2 linked regions of the Homo sapiens genome follow. The protein of the gene in region 1 interacts with the protein of each later gene in a pairwise test. Each region holds a gene or a part of one and is shown in the gene's direction. Other genes may lie near its edges. The genes, in order: SIGLECL1 and C3orf52.

Region 1 (9,835 bases):
AGAAGTTTATTACAAAGCGAAAGTACACCCTGAGAGGCAGAGGGAGGGAGAGACAGCCTCTAGCATCTCAAGGTAATTCCTTTCATGGGAACTATACATACATATTCATAAAATATTGGTGAGTCCAGCATGAAAGGCATGCACTCAGAATCTATGTGCTCTAACACGCATTGCATGTATCATTAGCATATAAAATCTCCACCTAGGGGTGTATTTTCTACTATTCAAATGAGGAAAAGGTCACTATAAGCTAAACTTTGAACATAGCTGCACACGCAGAGCCCTGGAGAAGTTCCCAGCTCCCCCAAGGCAGGAATTTGTAGCTCACAGCTTCTTGGGTTTTTGGTGTTGATTGGCTGGAGACTGGGGAAACTACACCATGAATAAGTGGCTTTTGTTCTCTTTCCCAGGCCACATTAACAGGAACTTGCAACCATCTGGTGGTCTGCTTGTATCCTGTAGGACTGTTTATCTTGCAAGAGTTAGGTGCTGACTCACGAGAGTGAAAACCAAAGAATCTGCTTCGAAAGGGATCCATGGGGCTTTGCGCAAGGATACAAGTGAGTATGGCCTCCTAACCTTACTTATCCTGCCTCACAACCTCAACGATATTCATATTCTGGCATTTGGGGCTGGATAATTCTTTGGTGGTGGTGGTTAGGGGAGGGTGTGGCAGGTCAGGTCTCCCTAACCGCTGAACAGGCAGGCCTCCATAACAACTGTCTCAGCACTGATTGAGTGGTTAAGTTAAATATTAAAAGCTGACAGAGCCAGTGCCCTCATACAAAGGCTGGAATGTAACAAAAGCCCACCAAGAATTTTGCCCAGGCCTTTTCTGGGCCTTGAGCATAACAAGATAATGAAGGAATTCTTAACAGGACCCGTTTAGGATTAAACAAGTTTTATTGGGGGGTCTGAAGAAACTCCTCTAAGCCTCCACAAACAAGTTTATTGGGGGTCTGAAGGAACTCCCCAAACCTCCATGATTTAGCAGGAGACAAGATAAGGGTAATCACCCCAGCACCTGGACCCATTTAGTTTAAATAAATTTACTGAGGCTACAGAGGAAGATCTTCAGGACTGACATCTTAGTTACAGATTGGAAGAAGTTAATCGCTTACGTCCAGATGAATGCACTCTTACATGTAGACAAATAGCTTAGAAGGTATATGAGCTCTGGAAAACTTTGTAATTTTGAGTTGGTCTGGCAATATTTTCCAGATCTTCTCCCTGTGCCCAGTTACAGAAATAAACTCCCTTCTCTCCCAGTTCACCTGCATCTTGTCATTGGGCTAAGAGAATAAGCAGCCTGACCCTTGGTTTGGTCCAGGAACAAGGGTGCATGGTCAGATGTTGAGCAGCGTCTCTAGGTTGTACACACAAGATGTCAGTAGCTCCCCTAGTCCAGTTTTGACAACCAAAAAAGGACTCCAGATATTGTCAGGTGTCTATCAGGGTGCAAAAAAGCACCAAATTGAGAAACACTGAACTAGAGCCTTCCTCCTCTGTATTCACATAGATACTTGAACAAAATGAACTTTCTCTAGTTCTTCAAGTTCACTACGAAAACCACTATGTTGCCCAATTTCTTTTTTTTTTTGAGACAGAGTCTGGATCCATCACTCAGGCTGGAGTGCACTGGTGTGATCTTGGCTCACTGCAACCTCCACCTCCTGGGTTCAAGCAATTCTCCTGTCTCAGCCTCCCAAGTAGCTGGGACTACAGGTGCCTGCCACCACGTCCAGCTAATTTTTGTATTTTTAGTAGAGACGGGGTTTCACCTTGTTAATCAGGCGGTCTCGAACTCCTGACCTCAGGTGATCCACCCGCCTCAGCCTCCCAAAGTGTTGGGATTACAGGCGTGAGCCACCGTGTCCGGCCGTTGCCCAATTTCAAAACAATTTAGTGCATTTGAAGAAGTTTATCGCAAAGCAAAAGTACACCCTGAGAGGCAGACGGAGGGAGAGATAGCCCCTAGTGTCTCAAGGGTCTCAAGACCCCCAGTAAAACTTGTTTAATCCTGAACGGGTCCTGTTAAGAATTCCTTTGTTATCACATTTATGAAGACGGTCTTGAGAAATCCTGAGGTTCTAATTTCTTTGTTTTCCAAACTTTTCCTGCATGCCTACTACATGCTACACCAATACAGGAGTTAAGAAGGAATTACTTAGGCCCAGAGCAAGGGCATGGGAGTCCTTGGTAAGGCTTTTCTTTTTAATGAAAAGCAGCCCCAAATCAGTTTCTAACAAAGAGCAGCCTGCAACCTGGGAGCTTGCATGAGTGAATGACGGCAGGAACTAAGGAATGGACATTTTCAAGATGGCCGCTCCATCTTCCCTTCTCTGTCACGTGCTGTAAGGAGCAGACAAGGTGGCACTGATCAACTGGAAAGTCCATTTGCATAAGAAGATTAGGGTGGGGTTACCAGCCTTCCTTGTGTGCTATTTAAACATTATACCCGATCAAACCAATCTATGAGCCTTATGTGAATCAGACACCACCTCCTCAAATGGGACTATAAAATTTGCAGCATTCACCACCAGATGGTCTTTTTTTCCGTTCCAAGACCCCTTCCTCTTTAGAGGAAGCAGTTTCTCTTTCTCTTCTCTTCTACCCATTAAACCTCCACTCCTAAAATCCTCGTGTGTTTCTGTGTCCTAAATTGTCCTGGCATGTGCCAGCGGAACCCCATGTTTATACCCCAAGTAACCTAGCTGCTTCAGCTCCTCCAAGAACATCAAAAGGAAGAAGATACAGTCCCTGGCTCATATGAAAATATAAACTTAGACACATTAAAATTTTAAAGAATTTATTTGAGCTGACATTCATGAATCCAGAAGTGCCAAACCACCTAGTGGGCACACAAGGAAAACTTTTATAAGGTATTCCTGGAATCAAAACAAAGAAAATAGTTTCATTTGGTTAAAGGGGAACGGTAGCCTTAAAGTTTGTAATTAGAGGTCAACTTGCAGTTTCTGATTGGTAAAGTCTCTACTTAGAGGTTAGTAGGCAGTTTCGATTGGTTAAGCCTAAGTTTCATTTTTCTAGGATATGACCATTCACTTTGAGTTAGGTTTGAATTTGCTTACTTGGAAACAAAGGCCTTGGAGCCATCTCAGCCTAATGGCTTCCCAGTTAGTTATTTTGACAATTGGGAGAGCTCAAGTTCATGGGGTAATGTTTGGGAAAGGGACAGAAATAGGTAACTTACTGAAACACAGTATGATAAGGTTCCTATAAAGATGGCAAAGGATATAAATTATGGGGATAATTATGGCCTAGGGTCTGGGGACCCAAGGGCAAGAGCTTTCAGGGATGGGAAAGAAGTTAGAAAAGGCTTCTCAGAGGAAGCCCCTTTCTAACTGCACCTTGAAGGGAAAGCAAGAGCCAGCAAGCAGAGAAGCGAGGAAAAGCAGTTTAGGTACTGATAATATCAATTACAAAGCAAGGAGGTAGAAGAGGGGCTGGCAGATGTTTAGGTAATAGCAGTCAGTCTGCTACAGCTAGGGTAAAGGGAACAAAGTCAGGTCCCCTCTCGGGAAGTCTATCTGGGGCCTGCTCTGCAAGCTGTAAGGGCCATGGAGTAAGGCCCTGGAGGGTGAACATCATCCTTCAGTCTGTCACATTAAAAAAAAAAAATCTGCACATAAATAAGGCAAGATTTTATCCAAAACAATTATTCCAATAAAGGGAGAAGAATCTTTGCAGCAGTGGAAGGGGAACTGCTGCAACAGGGAGGTGGAGACTGTTGTAATAGGGAGTGGAGGTCTCCCATGTACCATAAAACAAAACCAAAAAGTGAGCTTCTATTCTAGTGGCACAGTCAAACCATAAACAAAAATACCATTAGCAAATGATATTTAGCACAAAGTGTTTTTGTTACAGGAAAGGGGTTCTGATCCAGACCCCAAGAGAGGATTCTTGTATCTCTTGCAAGAAAGAATTCAGGGCTATTCCATAGAGTAACGTGGAAGCAAGTTTATTAAGAAAGTAAAAGAATAAAAGAATGATTACTTCATAGAGCAGCCCCGAGGGCTGCTGGTTGCCCATTTTTATGGTTATTTCTTGATGACATGCTAAAGAAAGGGTGAATTATTCATGCCTCCCCTTTTTAGACCATATAGTGTAACTTCCTGACGTTGCCATGGCATTTGTGAACCGTCATGGTGCTGGTAGGAGTGTAGCAGTGAGGATTACCAGAGGTCACTCTCATTGTCATCTTGGTTTTGGTGGGATTTGGCTGGCTTCTTTTTTTTTTTTTTCCTTTTGAGTCAGAGTCTCACTCTGTTGCCCAGGCTGGAGTGCAGTGGTGCAATCTCGGCTCACTGCAACTTCCACCTCGCGGATTCAAGCGATTCTCCTGCCTCAACCTCCCAAGTAGCTGGGGTTACAGGTGCCTGCCACCACGCCCAGCTAATTTTTGTATTTTTAGTAGACAGGGTTTCGCCATGTTGGCAGGCTGGTCTCAAACTCCTGACCTCAGGTAATCCGCCCGCCTCAGCCTCCCAAAGTGCTGGGATTACAGGCGTGAGTCACCGAGCCCAGCCTTGGCTGGTTTCTTTACTGCAACCTGTTTTATCAGCAAGGTCTTTATGACCTGTATCTTGTGCTGACCGCCTATATCATCCTGTAACTTAGAATGCCTTAGCCCTCTGGGAATGCAGCCCAGCAGGTCTCAGCCTCATTTTACCCAGCTCCTATTCAAGACGGAGTTGCTCTGGCTCAAATGCCTCTGTCATTTTGAAAGTGTAATGGGTAAGAAAGTGCGTGACGGATAAAGTGTGAGAAAAAATAAACAGGGTTAAACAAGAGGAACGGAGTCCTCAGGGTTGGAGAGGAGTGTGGTTTCATCAGCACGGGCTGGAAAGGCCTTGCTGGGAAGAAAATTGGCCCACAAACTACCCTGGCACCGCCCCCAGCTGCGGATTGGCTCAAGCCCTCAAGATCCAATTGGGCACAAAGGTTGGAGGAGGGAGTTGCAGTTGCAGTTCCTGATTGACTCTGGCAGCCGTGCATCAGCTCCCAGGGGCACACGCCTGTGGGCACAATGCTTCTGCTTCATTGATTGGCTGTAGAAAAAGCTCATGCAGCCTCTGATTGGCTATAAAATAAGCCCATGCAGCCTCTGATTGGCTGCAACATAAGCCCATGCAGCCTCTCATTGGTTGTAAAATAAGCACATGCAGCCTCTGATTGGCTGTGTAAAGTAAGCCCATGCAGCCGCTGATTGGCTGCGGGTGGATGCACTCACCTAAGGATGCGAGCTAGCAGGTCTTGCAGCGGCTATCACGCCCCTCACGCCGCTATCTCTGTGCAGCCGACTGAGGATCCCTAGTCGCATAAGGCTGTGCCTGGCCTGTTGGCGTCCCTGGCAGTTGTTGGGTTCTGGCGGTTGTTGGGTCCCTGGCAGTTGTTGGCGGTTGTTGGGTTCCTTCATTGAAACTGCACTAACTGGGCTTCCAGTCAGCGTCAGTCAGCGGATCCTTGGGCCGTGGGGCAGCCGCAGGTCGGTTAGGCCACCAGGGCGGCTCTCGTGCCAGTGAGGCCCCTGAGAGCCCTTTGGTCAGACAGAGGCTAAATCTGAACAGTCAGGCGGTGAGATTAAGCATAGTCAGGGAGTTCGCCAGGAGCCAGCGTTCCTCAGCCTCCACCACGTCAGTCACCTGGTCAGCCAGAGGGCAGCTGGGGCGACATCCATCTACCAAGAAGGTAAGCAAGCGGCCCGTGGGTTCACAATCAGGTCAGTGCCCTTATGAGTCAACGGTTAGTCCCTTTGAAAATCAGTTCATGAGAAAATCCACTCCCTTCAGAACCTGCCCTGTTCATTGGTTAGTTAGGCTCCCGCTAAGTCGGTCTCTTGGTAAGTTACACCCCTGCAAGGCACCCAGTCATTACTCACACAGTTATCCCATGTGTGTCTATCAGTTTCATTGTTAGTTATCCTGGCTTTCCCTAGAAAATCGTTTTCCTCACCATAAATAGGTCAGTCATTAGTAAGTCAGCCCTTCCCTTAGAAAGCCGAACACCTTTGCATCACTCACACCCTGCTAAGGAAATACACAGATGGAAGTGTGCTGAGAACAGAGAATATCCTGAGCCCTTTGGAACAAGAGACAGAAGGAAAATTGAGAGACATGATGGTGAAGGAAAATTGAGAGACATGGTGGTCAAGGAAAATAGGCTGGGCGCAGTGGCTCACGTCTGTAATCCCAGCACTTTGGGAGGCTGAGGCCGGGGATCACTTGAGGTCAGGAGTTCAAGACCAGCCTGGCCAACATGGTGAAACCCCGTCTCTTCCAAAAATACAAAAATTAGATGGGCATCGTGGCCCGTGCCTGTAGTCCCAGCTACTCGGGAGGCTGAGGCAGGAGAATCACTTGAACCCCGTAGGCAGAGGTTGCAGTGAGCCAAGATCGTGCCACTGCACTCCAGCCTGGGCAACACAGCGAGACTCTGTCTCAAAAAAAAAAAAAGAAAAGAAAAGAAAAAGAAAATATAATGGGTGCATGACGAGTCATCACATGTATGCTCTAAAACTGATGGAGAGAAGAAAGAAGAAATCAGAATTTTGTACTTAAATGGATCATTACATCTCCAGCAGTAAAACCCACTCATGTTACACATGAGGAAATAAGAAGAGGGAAAATACTTGACCACAGTTATTCAGTGCTTTACTGGCAAATCCTGGCCCAGGACCTAGACAAGGCTCATTCCGACCATCTAACATGGGCTTTTAAACAGAAGAAAGGGGAAGGAAAAAAAAATTGACAATGCAAAAAGAAAGTGGATATGTGGCGTGAATGAGAGAGGCATTTAACGACCTGGAAACTTGGGCGATATCTTTTTTATGTGAGAAGGAAAAAGGGCAATCAGTCTGGAGGCTAAGGGTTGGGAGCACAGACCACTCAGAGAGGTCTGTTAAAACATGCCGAAATATGGAATAGGAAAGGACAGGGCTGGTTCCAGAACTCTGGGAAGGGATTAGGGGTGGTCAAGAGTGGTCCCAGGCTGAGTGTGTTGGTTCACGGCTGCAATCCCAGCACTTTGGGAGGCTGAGGTGAGAAGACTGCTTGAGCCCAGGAGTTCGAGACCAGCCTGGGTAACATAGTGAGACTCTGTCTCTACAAAAAAAATTTTTTCATTAGCTGGACCTGGTGGCTTGTGCTTATAGTCCCAGCTACTCTGGAGGCTGAGGTGGGAGGATCACTTGAGCCTGGAAAGTCGAGGCTGCAGTGAGCCATGTTCATGCCACTGCACTCCAGACCCTGTGTTAAAAAAAAACAAAAAAAAAGTGGTTCCAAGTTAAATGCTGATAGGAGCTAAGCAGGGAACCTAATACATAGTAACTAACATTTTTTGATTGCTTACCAAATGTGAGGTTCTGTTCTACTGACTCATTTAATCTTAACAACAACTCTAAGATGGGTGCTATTATTATCCATGTTTTTAAAATGAGCAAGTAGGCCTAGAGAGAGGTGAAGCTACTTGCACACTATAAAACAGCTAACCTTCATATCTAGGCAGTTTGACTTGAATTTAAAATTTAAAAAAAAGAGAGAGAGAGAAGCTGGTTGTTTGAATTTTTTGTGAAGTGCTCTGATTATTAAATGTTATCCCATTTTAAAAGTTAGTTTTAAAAAGTAAGCATTTGTAGGCCAAACAAAATTCATTTATGATTGTTTTTAGTCTCTGAAGCAGGCTGACAGTGAGGGAAGTGACTTACCCAGAATCACCCAGGAAGTAGCGACAAAGATTAGGTCTTCTGACTTCTGGTCCACTTCCAGGAAAAATCTAAGTATACTGTGTGTCACATCAGGGCTAGCTGATTTATTCTTATATTTTATTCATGAGGAAGTGAATTTGGAGAGGAGAATGAACTTCACCATGCTTATACAGCAGTTTTTAAGGCAAAATAGAATCATGAAAAAGACACCACAGTTGTAGTCAAAGGTTGAGTCTGAAATCTATGAACGTAACGGCTGCATGTCTTGGGGCCAGTCATAGTACTTTTGTGGATCTCTGCCTTCCTTTTGGAAGTGTTGATAATGAGATGTACCTCACAGAGTTGTTGAGACTAAGATAAAAGATAAAATTTCTACGTCTCTAGAGTTGTAAATGGCAACCATAGTTTCTCATTAGATGTTAACCAAAAAAGTAGTTAACAGTCATGGCATGATTCAGTCATTCCCAATTGATTCACAGCAGGGCACAGTGGCTCATGCCTGTAATCCTAGCACTTTGGGAGGCTGAGGCGGGAGAATTGCTTAAGCCCAGGAGTTCAAAACCAGCCTGGGCAATATAGCAAGACTCGACTCTCTCTCTACAGAAAATATTTTTTTTAAATGAATTGGGTCTAGTAGTGTGCCCTTAAAGTCCCAGCTACTCGAGAGACTGATGTGGGAGGACTACTTGAGCTCAGGAGTTCGAGGCTGTAGATAGCTGTGATTGTACCACTGCACACCAGCCAGGGTGACAGGGTGAGACTCCATCTCTTTAAAAAAAAAAAAAAAAGGATTGATTCACAGTATCCAAATAGTAGAAACAACCCAAATGCCATCAACTGATGAATGGATAAACAAAATGTGGTCTATCCATACAATGGAATATTATTCAACGATAACAATGAAAGGAGTACTGATATCTGGTACAACATGAATTAGCCTTGAAAGCATGCTAAATGAAAGAAGCCAGACACAAAAGACCACATATTATATCATTTCATTTATATACAATGTCCAGAATAGGCAAATTTATAATTACGGAAAATAGATTAGTGGTTGCCTACAACTAGGGGGTGGAGTTGGGGTTTGGGGAAACGGGGAGTAAATGTTAATAGATATTGGTGTTTTTAGGGAGGTGATGAAAGTGCTCTGGAATTAGGTAATGGTGATGTCTGCATATCTTTATGAATATACTAAAACTCCTAAATTGTGTGCACTTTAAAATGGTGAATTTATGGTATATGAATTATAGCTCAATAAAAATAAAAAAATTAATTATAAAAAGGTTAGCTACCAGTAGACCCATGGCTAAATAAAAACCTGAAAATTTTAGGGAAAACTAGATACTCACATGGAAATTGGACACTTAGTTTATACCAAATACAAAAATAAACTCAAAATGGGTTAAAGACTTAAATATAGCCAGGCGCAGTGGCTCACGCCTGTAATCCCAGCACTTTGGGAGGCCAGGGAGGGTGGATCACTTGATGCCAGGAGTTTGAGACCAGTCTGGCCAACATGGTGAAACCCTGTCTCTACTAAAAATACAAAAGTTAGCCAGGCATGGTGGAGCACGCCTGTAATCCCAGCTACTCAGGAGGCTGAGGCACAAGAATCGCTTGCACCCAGGAGATGGAGGTTGCAGTGAGCCAAGATCATGCCACTGCACTCCAGCCTGGGCAACAGAGTGGGGACCCTGTCTCAAGAAAAAAAAAAAAAAAGACTTAAATATAAGAACTGAGATTGTAAAACTACTAAAAGAAAACATCGGAGAAAACTTCTGTATATTTATATGTAATACACAATAAAAATTATTGGTTTGGGAAATAGTTATTTGGATATTTCTGCAAAAACACAGGAAACAAAAGCAAAAATTGACATGCAAGATTGCAGCAAAGTAGTTTCTGAACAGCAAAGGAAACAATCAACAGAGTGAAGAGACAACCTACAGAATGGGAGAAAATATTTGCAAAGCATCCATCTAATAAGGGGCTAATATCCAAAATACATAAGGAACTCAAACAACTCAATAGCAAAAAAATCAAATAACCCAATTAAAAAATGGGCAAGGACCTGAATAGGCATTTCATAAAAGAAGACATACCAAAATGGCC
Region 2 (9,702 bases), on another chromosome or scaffold:
CTCTTCACCTCACAAAGAGCAGTCTGCAAGAGGAAGGTATTTCACTTCCTTCCACAGTTTTTCTGGAGATGTAAAAGGTTATGGGATAATATTCAGGGAAGAATTTTTTTAACACTTGTAGTGCAAACTTTATTTTTAATTTAACTGTAAATTTGTGTTCGAACATGTCAATGCTGTAAGAGAGATTTTTTCAAACTACTTTTTAAATCAAGGAAATACTTGTATTTTACTTGGCATCTCAGCTCTTAGGTATTTGATCCTGTGGGGAGAGTCATGTTAGACGTGGGGGTGGGGGGAGATACAGTAGGTTAAAAGGGGTGGGGCAGGGGCTCCCTTCTGTGACAGTCCCAGCCTCACCTAGAGCAGTTCCGTAGGCATTTTTTGGGGATGATCTTCAATAATCAGCCACTTCCTAATTGCCAAGCCCATTAATATGAATCAGATATTTGTGGAACTTTCAAGTACTGCATGGGAAATGTTGTCTGGGGATAAAAACACTGTTGGGAGAGTCAAGGGCTGTGCCTGTGGCTGTCTGGATTTACTGGGTGACTAAGGTTCCTCAGGAACTATATTTGCCATTCATTGCCTGCTTACCCTTCTCTAGACCCCTTAATCTCCTGTCTCAAGGCTCTGTAGTCTTCAGACTGAAGCTTGGAGGCGGAAGTGTTAACTTTTGTTCTTCAGTAGGCAGGTCTTTGCAAAACTACCCAGAAAGGCTGAGGAAGCTGAGAGGCTAAAGAAAAACTGACAAATCCAGTTACTCAGAAAGAAACATTTAACAGGGTTTTAGGAACAGAAGCCATGCGTTGGGCAGCAGTGAGAGGAGATGGTGCATTCCTGCACCATTACCCCAAAGGCCCAGGGCTTAAATACCACAGAAAAAGGGTATGCATGCTTCAGAAGGGATGTGTTTTATAATTGCATAAGGGCAAGATTTATGGCATGTAGATAACGTTAAGGTTGTTTAGACCTGAGGGTGAGATTTATGGTAAGTATGTGCTCTTATACATGCAACAGTAGATGAAATAGAAATCTTAGAGGCATTTCCAGAGCTGGGATTAATCAGAAGTTAATACAGTGAAATAATAACTAAGACGGAATTTCTTTAGCCTTCAAAACTGTGCAGTTGGGGTGGACATAAAATGGGACAGTGAAAGCATCTCAGAACAGAAAGTTGGGGAGGGGACACCTGGGTACCCAGGGCAGGGTGTCCAGTGGGGAGTTATATTTTTTCACTCGAATTAAGAATTGTCAGCATGTGGTGATAATAAAAGCAGACCAACTTGTAGTAGGTTTTATTATTGCTGCTCATTCTCTACAGACTGTGCAGCCTTCATTGCCTGTACATGGGTTGGGCTTGCCCACTACTCTTCCCTTGTATGCCATTGAAGAATGACAAATTCAGGATCATGGCTTAGCTTAAAGCACTGAGTAGGGGCTTTGTATGTGCTAGGGAAAAGAGGCTACCTGTCCACCAGACTCACAATCGACATGGAAATTTTTTTAATGTCCATTTTTATGAGTGGAACCCAGGGAATTCTGTTATTTGAGACTCTTTAGGGAAAAGGTATTAATGGATTCTTTCCTTCCTCATAAGGAATTATAAATTTCTTGATTTGAAAGGTACAGAAACAAAAGCCTTCATCTTTTTCTCAAAGTCATTTTCTTTCTGGATAATTTGGAGGATCAGTTGAGTGTTCTCAAGGGTTCTCCTTTCTTCAATAATTCACCCTAGTCATGGAGAGGTGAGACCCTGAATAACACTTTACTAATGAAGTTTTGGTTGGGGCAAAATATTTTAAATATTTCAAAAACAAAACTGTGACAAGTAGGTGGATGCTTAGAAACATGATTTAAATTGATAACATCCTGGAGACCCTCATGTGATATCCCCCAACATTATACCCCAGATTCTTGCCTGACCCTAATCTCTTAATTTATACACCTTTTATGAGTAGGAACGCTGTGGTACTGAGATATAAGCAACGACTTCCTAAGTGACGTTGTGTTGAGTGGATTTGTTTGCCTTTCAGTTGTGAATAAGAGCTACATTTTATGATGTCATGTGGTTCTGGCAGACTGACAGTTTTCACAGGGTAATGCTCCCTGGTGTAGGGTGACTCATGGGAAAATCCTAGGCAGACAGCATTAACAAGCTATAAGCTGCCAAGGTCCTTTGGGGCAGGAACATGAGAGCAGTGCTAGACCCAGTACCTTGAAATTTCTTTCCATTTTCACCTGTTTATCTTTTCTTCAAATCGCTGATGTTTCTCTACCAAGATGGACACCCTTACCTGTGGTCTCCATATAATATCTTTCAGCTTCCTCTGACCCAGAGATCTTCAGATATCTCCTCCTCTCTCTAAGCATCCTCAGGTTCTTCTTAATTTATGCCTAGTGTTCCATTATTGGAATGCTAATCATGTAGAAGTTATTTATATCTTACTGCTCAAGGTCATCACCAAAGTCTGAATGCAAAAATTCGAAAAGTTCAACCTCAGGTATAAATGGGTTAACTCTTCAAATGCACTAGCATCCTCTCTCCTTCAAAGCAATCTTCCATCAGGATTCTTGCTACTTCATTTAGATATGTGTTTTTCTCTCCCTTCTTTCACTGGCACACTTCCAGAAAGAAAGGTCTGCATTTGAATCTTGCCTCCTGCAGACTCCCAAACCTCTTGTATCTATTGGTTCCCAATTTTTCTTCCCAAGATTACTAGCAATTGTCTGATCGTGGAAGCCAACATTTCTCTGTCTCCTGCCTTATTGTCAGCTTTTAGCTCTGCCAACTTCATTATACTCTTCTGAGTCTATAGAACTCCTGGACTTTAGGTTGATTTTGCTATTTTTGCTCTTGGCATCTGCATTGTGGGTTCATGAGGCTTCTCTTCAGCTTCGTGACTTTTCACATTCTTCATTCTTTTTCTTGGAGAGCTCATTCACTCCCAGGACAGCAGCCATGCCTCCAAGAAGGTGACTCCTAGATCTACATCTGTACAATTTTCCTGAGTTTTGGAAGTACTCTTGGCTAGAGATATTTATCTAAAAATAACTGTCATCATCTCAATTATTATACATGTGAAACTACCATTTGTTTGTATGCTATTTTAGTCTGCTTGGGCTACTATAACAGAATATCATAAACTAGGTAGCTTATACATAACAGAAATTTATTGCTTACAGTTCTGGAGGCTGGGAACTCCAAGATCAAAGTGTCAGCACACATTTGCTGTCTGGTGAGGGCACACTTTTTATTTCGTAGATCATGCCTTCTAGCTATATCTTCTATGGTATAAGGGGAAAGGCAGCTTTCTGGGCCTCTTTTATAAGGGCACTAATACCATTCAAAAGTGCTCTCCCCTCATGATCTAATCACCTCCCAAAGGCCCCACCCTCTAAGACCATCTGATATTGTTTGGATTTGTGTCCCTGCCCAAATCTCATGTTGAATGATAAGAGGGGCCTGGTGGGAGGTGATTGGATCATGGGGGTAGATTTCCCCTTTGCTATTCTCATGATAGTGTGTGAATTCTCATGAGATCTGATGGTTTAAAAGTGTGTGGCTCTTTGTTGTTTGCTCTTTCTCTCTCTCTCCTGCTCCCCCATGGTAAGACATGCTTGTTTCCCCTGAGCCTTCTGCTATAATTGTAAGTTTCCTGAGGGCTCCCATCCTTGCTTCCTGTTAAGCCCGCAGAACTGTAAGACAATTAAACCTCTTTTCTTCATAAATTGCCCAGTCTCAGGTAGTTCTTTATAGCAGTGTGAGAATGGACTAATACACGCTCACATTGGTGGTTAGATTTCAACATATGCATTTTTCGGGGAGACACAAACATTCAGACCATAACATATCCTTCATCCCAATTTGTTCATCTTTTCCCCATTCACTCACCCTTTATATAAGACCAAGTTTATTTTAGTTCTGCTACTATCCAATTGTGTAACTTTAGGCAAACTTGTCAAGCCTCTGGGCCTGTTTTCCCATTTATAAAATGTAAAGGATTTCGGAATCTGAGTCTATAAATATACCTTGACCCTAATACATGCTAATTCATTGACCTGAACAAATTATGCATTTTCTCTAAGCCTCAGTGTCTTCATTTAAAAATGAAAACAACAATATTTAACTCATTGGGTTAATGTGAGGATTATGTGAGGAAAATATATTCATAAGGTGCATAGTAGAATGTTTGCACGTCATACTTAATACAGTAGCTATTATTCTTCCTGTTCCTGGGCTTGATATCTTGGAAACCTTTTTGATTTCTTCTTTCTCATATCTAGATAATGGCCAAATCTTACCAGTTATTCCTTGGTAGTGTCTTGATAGCAACTTTCCCACTTACTACAAGGCACCATGCAGGATACTTTATGCATGTTGGTTTTCATCTTTACTATCACCTACATTGTAGGTGTTGATATTTCTGTTGGAGAAGTAGCTTCAGAGATTTAAGTGACTTGCTCAAGGTCACCTGGCTAACAAATAGCCAACAGGAGTTCAGACTGAGTCTGGCTGCCTTTAAAGCCAGCTCTGTTTCTACTATCCTGGGCTTTCTCATTAATTTTTTCTTTTTGTTCCTTCTGCTGTCAGTCAAATCAGTCTGTTCCAAACTTGTGCCTGTTGGCCTCTCTGCCTCATCTCTCCTCGTTTCATTTATCCCATCCATGACCACCCGATTAACCTCCATTAAACACCAGCCTCTACTTTCTTCGTGGGCGATGTTTAACAACACTCCATTACCCCTTGAAGGTATCTGGCGTTTAAGGGCTCTCTCTCTAGCTTAATTTCTTATATTCTAGCCAAAGAACTGTTTTCATGTTCCTTCAACATACAACACATGTTTTTGTGATTTTTAAAAATATGTTTTTTCTACACGAATAAGTATAGCCCAGATTATCTCATTAGTGACATAAAAACTCTCCTGACTGAGTAAGCCTGTCGTTGTTACTATTGTTATTATTTTGACACACACAACTATTTAGATAGGTCTTGGTACAGATTCATGATTTGAATGATACACATTAAATATGTGTCAGAGCTATTATGGGAGGCCTGTTTTCACACTTGGCATCTCTTCTCAGTGTCCTTGAGTTTAGCAGTTATTTGAACCTTGTATCTATCCTCTTGGCATCCCCTATTGTTTTCTGAGGCATTGATATCTATTATGGAAATCTACATGGTGGGTATAGAGCTCAAAGATACCCATTGAAATATTATTTATAGAAGTAGAAAGCTAAAAATGATAAATGTCATATTTAAGAAAATAGGTGAGCCTATTATGAACATTATGAAGCCATTGAAATAATCTTTGCAAGGAATTTTAAGCACATGGGAAATGGCTTTTGATATGTTTACAACAGAACAATCAGGATAAGTAAGCAATAATGGCAGCAAACAACAAAAAGCAGGATATAAATTACCTATTTGTTAGGACCTTAAATATATAATATCAAGTATAGGAGGAAAAAACCCTCTTGATTGCAAGATTATTCGTATTTTTTTCTTTGCTTTGTTACAATTTCCTGCACTTTGCAAAATTTTTTGCTATGAAGGCGTAACTTTTTTTTTAAATCATACAACATAATGTCATGACTTATAACAATTAAGGACGCAGGGATAATTCCCTACGTTTGGGGGTCCCCAAGATTACTCCTAGATTCAACAATTTGCTAGGAGGATACACAGGACTCAGCATGCAGTCCTACTGATCACTATGATCTATTACAGCAAAAGGATACATTACATCAAATGATTAATTACAGCAAAATCCAGAGAAAACCAGGAGCAAGCTTTCAAGTGTCCTCTCTCAGTGGAGTTGCACCAGACTTGTTTAATTCCTCCAGCGATAGGCTGTGACAACACATGTGAGATCTCATCTACTAGGGAAGCTTATTGGAGATTCAGTACCCGGGGTTTTCACTGGGGCTTGGTCATATACGTAGCCTCTGCCTACTATGCACTAAAAATCCAGACTCCCAGAAGGAAAGGAGATGTTAGCCACATTGTACAAACAGTTGAGGCACAGTGAGCCCCTCTCATCAGGGGAAAATCCAGGTTCTCAGACACCAGCCAGGACCAATTTTGAGGAGGCCTTTCTTATGCTAGCAATCTCAGGCCTGCTATATTAACTCTTTTCTGCACATTCCTTGCTCGTAATGCCTCGTATTTCCAGATGTCATCACAGAATAAGTAACCGGAATACCAGGAATCTTCCTCCTTTTTACCTGTCCTTCCATCTCAAACACTGAATTTATTCCACTATGGTCTTAAAGTCTATGGCAATATAAGCACCTGGTTCCTCCCACCTACGCCTTTCTCAGGGCCAGAGAGGTAGTCTCCTGTGTGGGACCAGCTGGTGAGGCTGTTGTGGAGCCAGGGGAGCATAATTAGCACAGTAGTGCTAGCTTCTGGCGCCTGGCTCCTCACTTTGTGTGATTTTCCTTTAGTTCCAACTACTTAAAAATCAATTAGATGGCAGTCATTAAACACAAGCAGCAATACATAACTAATTGTCCCAGGAATGTAATTCCTGCACACCCTGGGGCTCTGAATATAGTTTAGCTTCCCTTCTGCAAGCAGAGCATGTCAACATACCTGTCCTGTGAGACATAGTCTAGAGTGATGACTTCATGCTCATCCTCTGTCTTCCTGGGGAGACTTCAAGACATGGACTCGCATGCTCATTTTCTAGTCACCTCTGTTGTTTGAGTCGATGATGTCACTTCTTCATGGTGGTCTTTGCCAGCACAGAATTGGGAGGTGAGTCAATGCAGTTACTTGCTCCCACTTCCTGTCCTTCATCACTCATTGTTTTAGGCAAACTCGTCAACCCTCTGGGTCTGTTTTCCCATTTATAAAATGTAAATGATTTCGGAATCTGAGTCTATAAATATACCTTGACCCTAATACATGCTAATTCATTGACCTGAACAATTCCTGCACACCCTGGGGCTCTGAGTGTAGTTTAGCCACCCCCACCGTCTCCCAGTACCTGCCTTGACACCTGTGTACCTAGCTAAGCTGCAGGTTTAGTCTAATAAGGAAGTTCATATTCTTCCTACTCCCTTGGGCCCTTTCCCCAGTCTGTATTCAGTGGAATCTGAGACCCCTTTGCCATAAAACAAACTTTTTATTTTGATAGAGGCAAACCCCTGTATTTTACTCAATTTTGCTGAGTGGAGAAAGCATTTCTGCTTACACTTGCTTGCTGTGTTCAGCCTTTACCCTTGATGCTCATAGTTATGTTTAAGTATGGCAGTCAATGGAATAAATAAGTTTATTATTATATGCAGGTGTTTACTTTTGTTTTTCATTTCCACCTCCCCTACTTTCTTTAGTAACTTATGTTGATGAAGATGAAAATGAAATACTTGAATTATCATCAAACAAAACATTCTTCATCATGCTGAAGATTCCAGAGGAGTGTGTTGCTGAAGAGGAATTGCCTCACCTGCTCACCGAAAGGGTAATTCCATCTTATATATTGCCTAAGGAGTTCTTGACATTAGAATATGAATTTTGCTAGAATAATTGGCATAGAGCTATAGAGTAAGTAGCTTCAATTTTGGATTCTTTGTCTGGATTTTAGCAGAAAATGATGCTTATAAATATATTTTATGACCAAATACCACATGTTCTCACTTACAAGTGGGAGCTAAATGATGAGAACACATGGACACGAAGAGAGGAACAGACACTGGGGCCTACTTAAGGGCGGAGGGTGGGAAGAGGGAGAGGAGCAGGAAAAAAAGTAACTATTGGGTACTAGGCTTAGTACCTGGGTGACAAAATAATCTGTACAACAAACCGCCATGACACGAGTTTACCTATAGAAGAAACATGCACATGTATTCTCCTGAGCCTAAAATAAAACTTTGTTAAAAAAATAAGTAAATATCTTTACTGTAGTGCAAAGCCAGAGGGAAGATTCCTGGCCTCCAGCTGCATAAATGCTGGAGGACACTGTTCTTTTTACTCCCTTAGGTCCTACATTTAATTCAACCTATAGTATTCATTGAGGGTCTGTGATGTGCTAGACAGCATGCCAAGTGCCAGGGCCACATTGTCTGTGCCTTCAGGGGTCTCACAGTCCAAGTACAGGAAGTGACTAAAAAGATCGTTTTATAATAGTGTGGTATGTTCTAGTGTGTTGTACAGTGGCAAAGGAGGGGCATCTGAGCTACCTCAGGTGAAGATGAAGGCATGAAAGGCCTGTTAAGTGAAGTGATGCTCAGGATGAGTTTTGAAATGAGGTAGGAATGTTCTAAATAAAAAAGCATGGGACATTAAAGGATCTGCAAAGTAGTGTACTGTGGCCTTCCCATGCTTTGTGGTGACAGCTGGCAGAGATAAGGCTAAAAAGGAAGGCAGGCGTCAGGTCATGAAGGCTTTCCCACTCTTCAATAAGGCACCAAAATATTTTAATCAGCAGATTGACACAGTTAGATTTTTCCTTTTAGCCTTTCTGTGTTTTGGTGGAGAAAGCCAGGAGGAAGAGATCAGTTAGAAGGTGTTACAATAGTCCAGGTGAGAAATGAGGGAGACTTGAACTAGGGCAGTGTCGGGAAAATAAGGAAGATTTGCGTGAGATTTAAGAGGTATTCTCACTCAATAAGAGTCCATGACTGATTGGGTGGTGGTGAGGAGAGCATGACTCCAAGCTCCAGTTGAGTGATTGGGCAGATGGATGGCGGTGTCAGTCATGGGATGAGAAACCCAGGAGAATGAACCCTCTGTGGAAGATGGAAGCTCTGCAGCCAGACTAGGACCGTTGGGTGGGGCATCCTGATCATCCTGTCAAAGACAAGGTGGTTCACAGCCAGACCCAGAAATTTTGATAAGAAAATCTAGGCAAGAGCAGGCTGCCCTCCATTAAATTCTTCTCTGCCATTGCTAGGTTGAATGGAGTGAGTGCTGTTTATCTAACTTCCATTCGATTTGATTCCTACAAAAGCTCCTGAAGAGGCGATTCCATCCAGGTCACATCAGAATCAGTTTCTGGGTACCCACGCATGAGATTTCATTGCTTCTTTTATCACAGGAGTTGGTATCCTGTGATGATTACTCCAGATTTCTCTTTCTCCTTCTCTTCATTTATATCTTTAAATTTTTTTTAGATTGTTTAAATTTATTTATTTATTTTTATTTTTTATTTCCGTAGGTTTTGGGGGACCAGGTGGTATTTGGTTACATGAATAAGTTCTTTGGTGGTGATTTCTGAGATTTTGGTGCACCCATTACCCGAGCAGTGTACACTGTGCCCAATTTGTAGTCTTTTATCCCTCACCCCCACCACCTTTTCCATCAAGTCCTTGAAGTCTCTTCATTTATGTCTTATCTTCACCTCCTTTTCTCCTTTCCTTCCACCTGCTTCCTGGGGCAAGTTGCTGAGTGAGACGCTTCTTGCTACTTTCCTCTTGGCTGCTTTTTTAATGGAGAGGTTTTTGCATTTGCTGAGCAGAAATAAGATGAGTCAGCATCCACATGTGTCACCTGTTGCATAGTAGACTGTCTATTTCAAAGGTAAATGAATGTTCATTTTTCATTTTACAACCATATATCTTGCACAGAGTCAGATATGAGGAAATTCTGCGGGTATTTTGAGCTCATCACTAGGTAGTGGCAAAAGAACAGGGACTGACATTGATGCCTGTGGTGGGTCCACAGATTTCTTTGAGCCAGTTTCTTCGCTGATAAATGGA

Evidence for each region.
Region 2: the proteins of SIGLECL1 (region 1) and C3orf52 interact in binary tests that used the Homo sapiens proteins (3 or more experiments, as listed by UniProt).

Annotation. Positions count from the first base shown.
Region 1 is NC_000019.10:51,245,837-51,255,671, forward strand, and holds the start of SIGLECL1 (SIGLEC family-like protein 1), read left to right. Parts: upstream 1-5,243; 5' UTR 5,244-5,709; intron 5,710-9,835.
Region 2 is NC_000003.12:112,095,500-112,105,201, forward strand, and holds part of C3orf52 (TPA-induced transmembrane protein), read left to right. Parts: intron 1-7,338; coding exon 7,339-7,466; intron 7,467-9,702. UniProt on the Homo sapiens protein: Has a role in LIPH-mediated synthesis of 2-acyl lysophosphatidic acid (LPA). LPA is a bioactive lipid mediator involved in different biological processes, and necessary to promote hair formation and growth.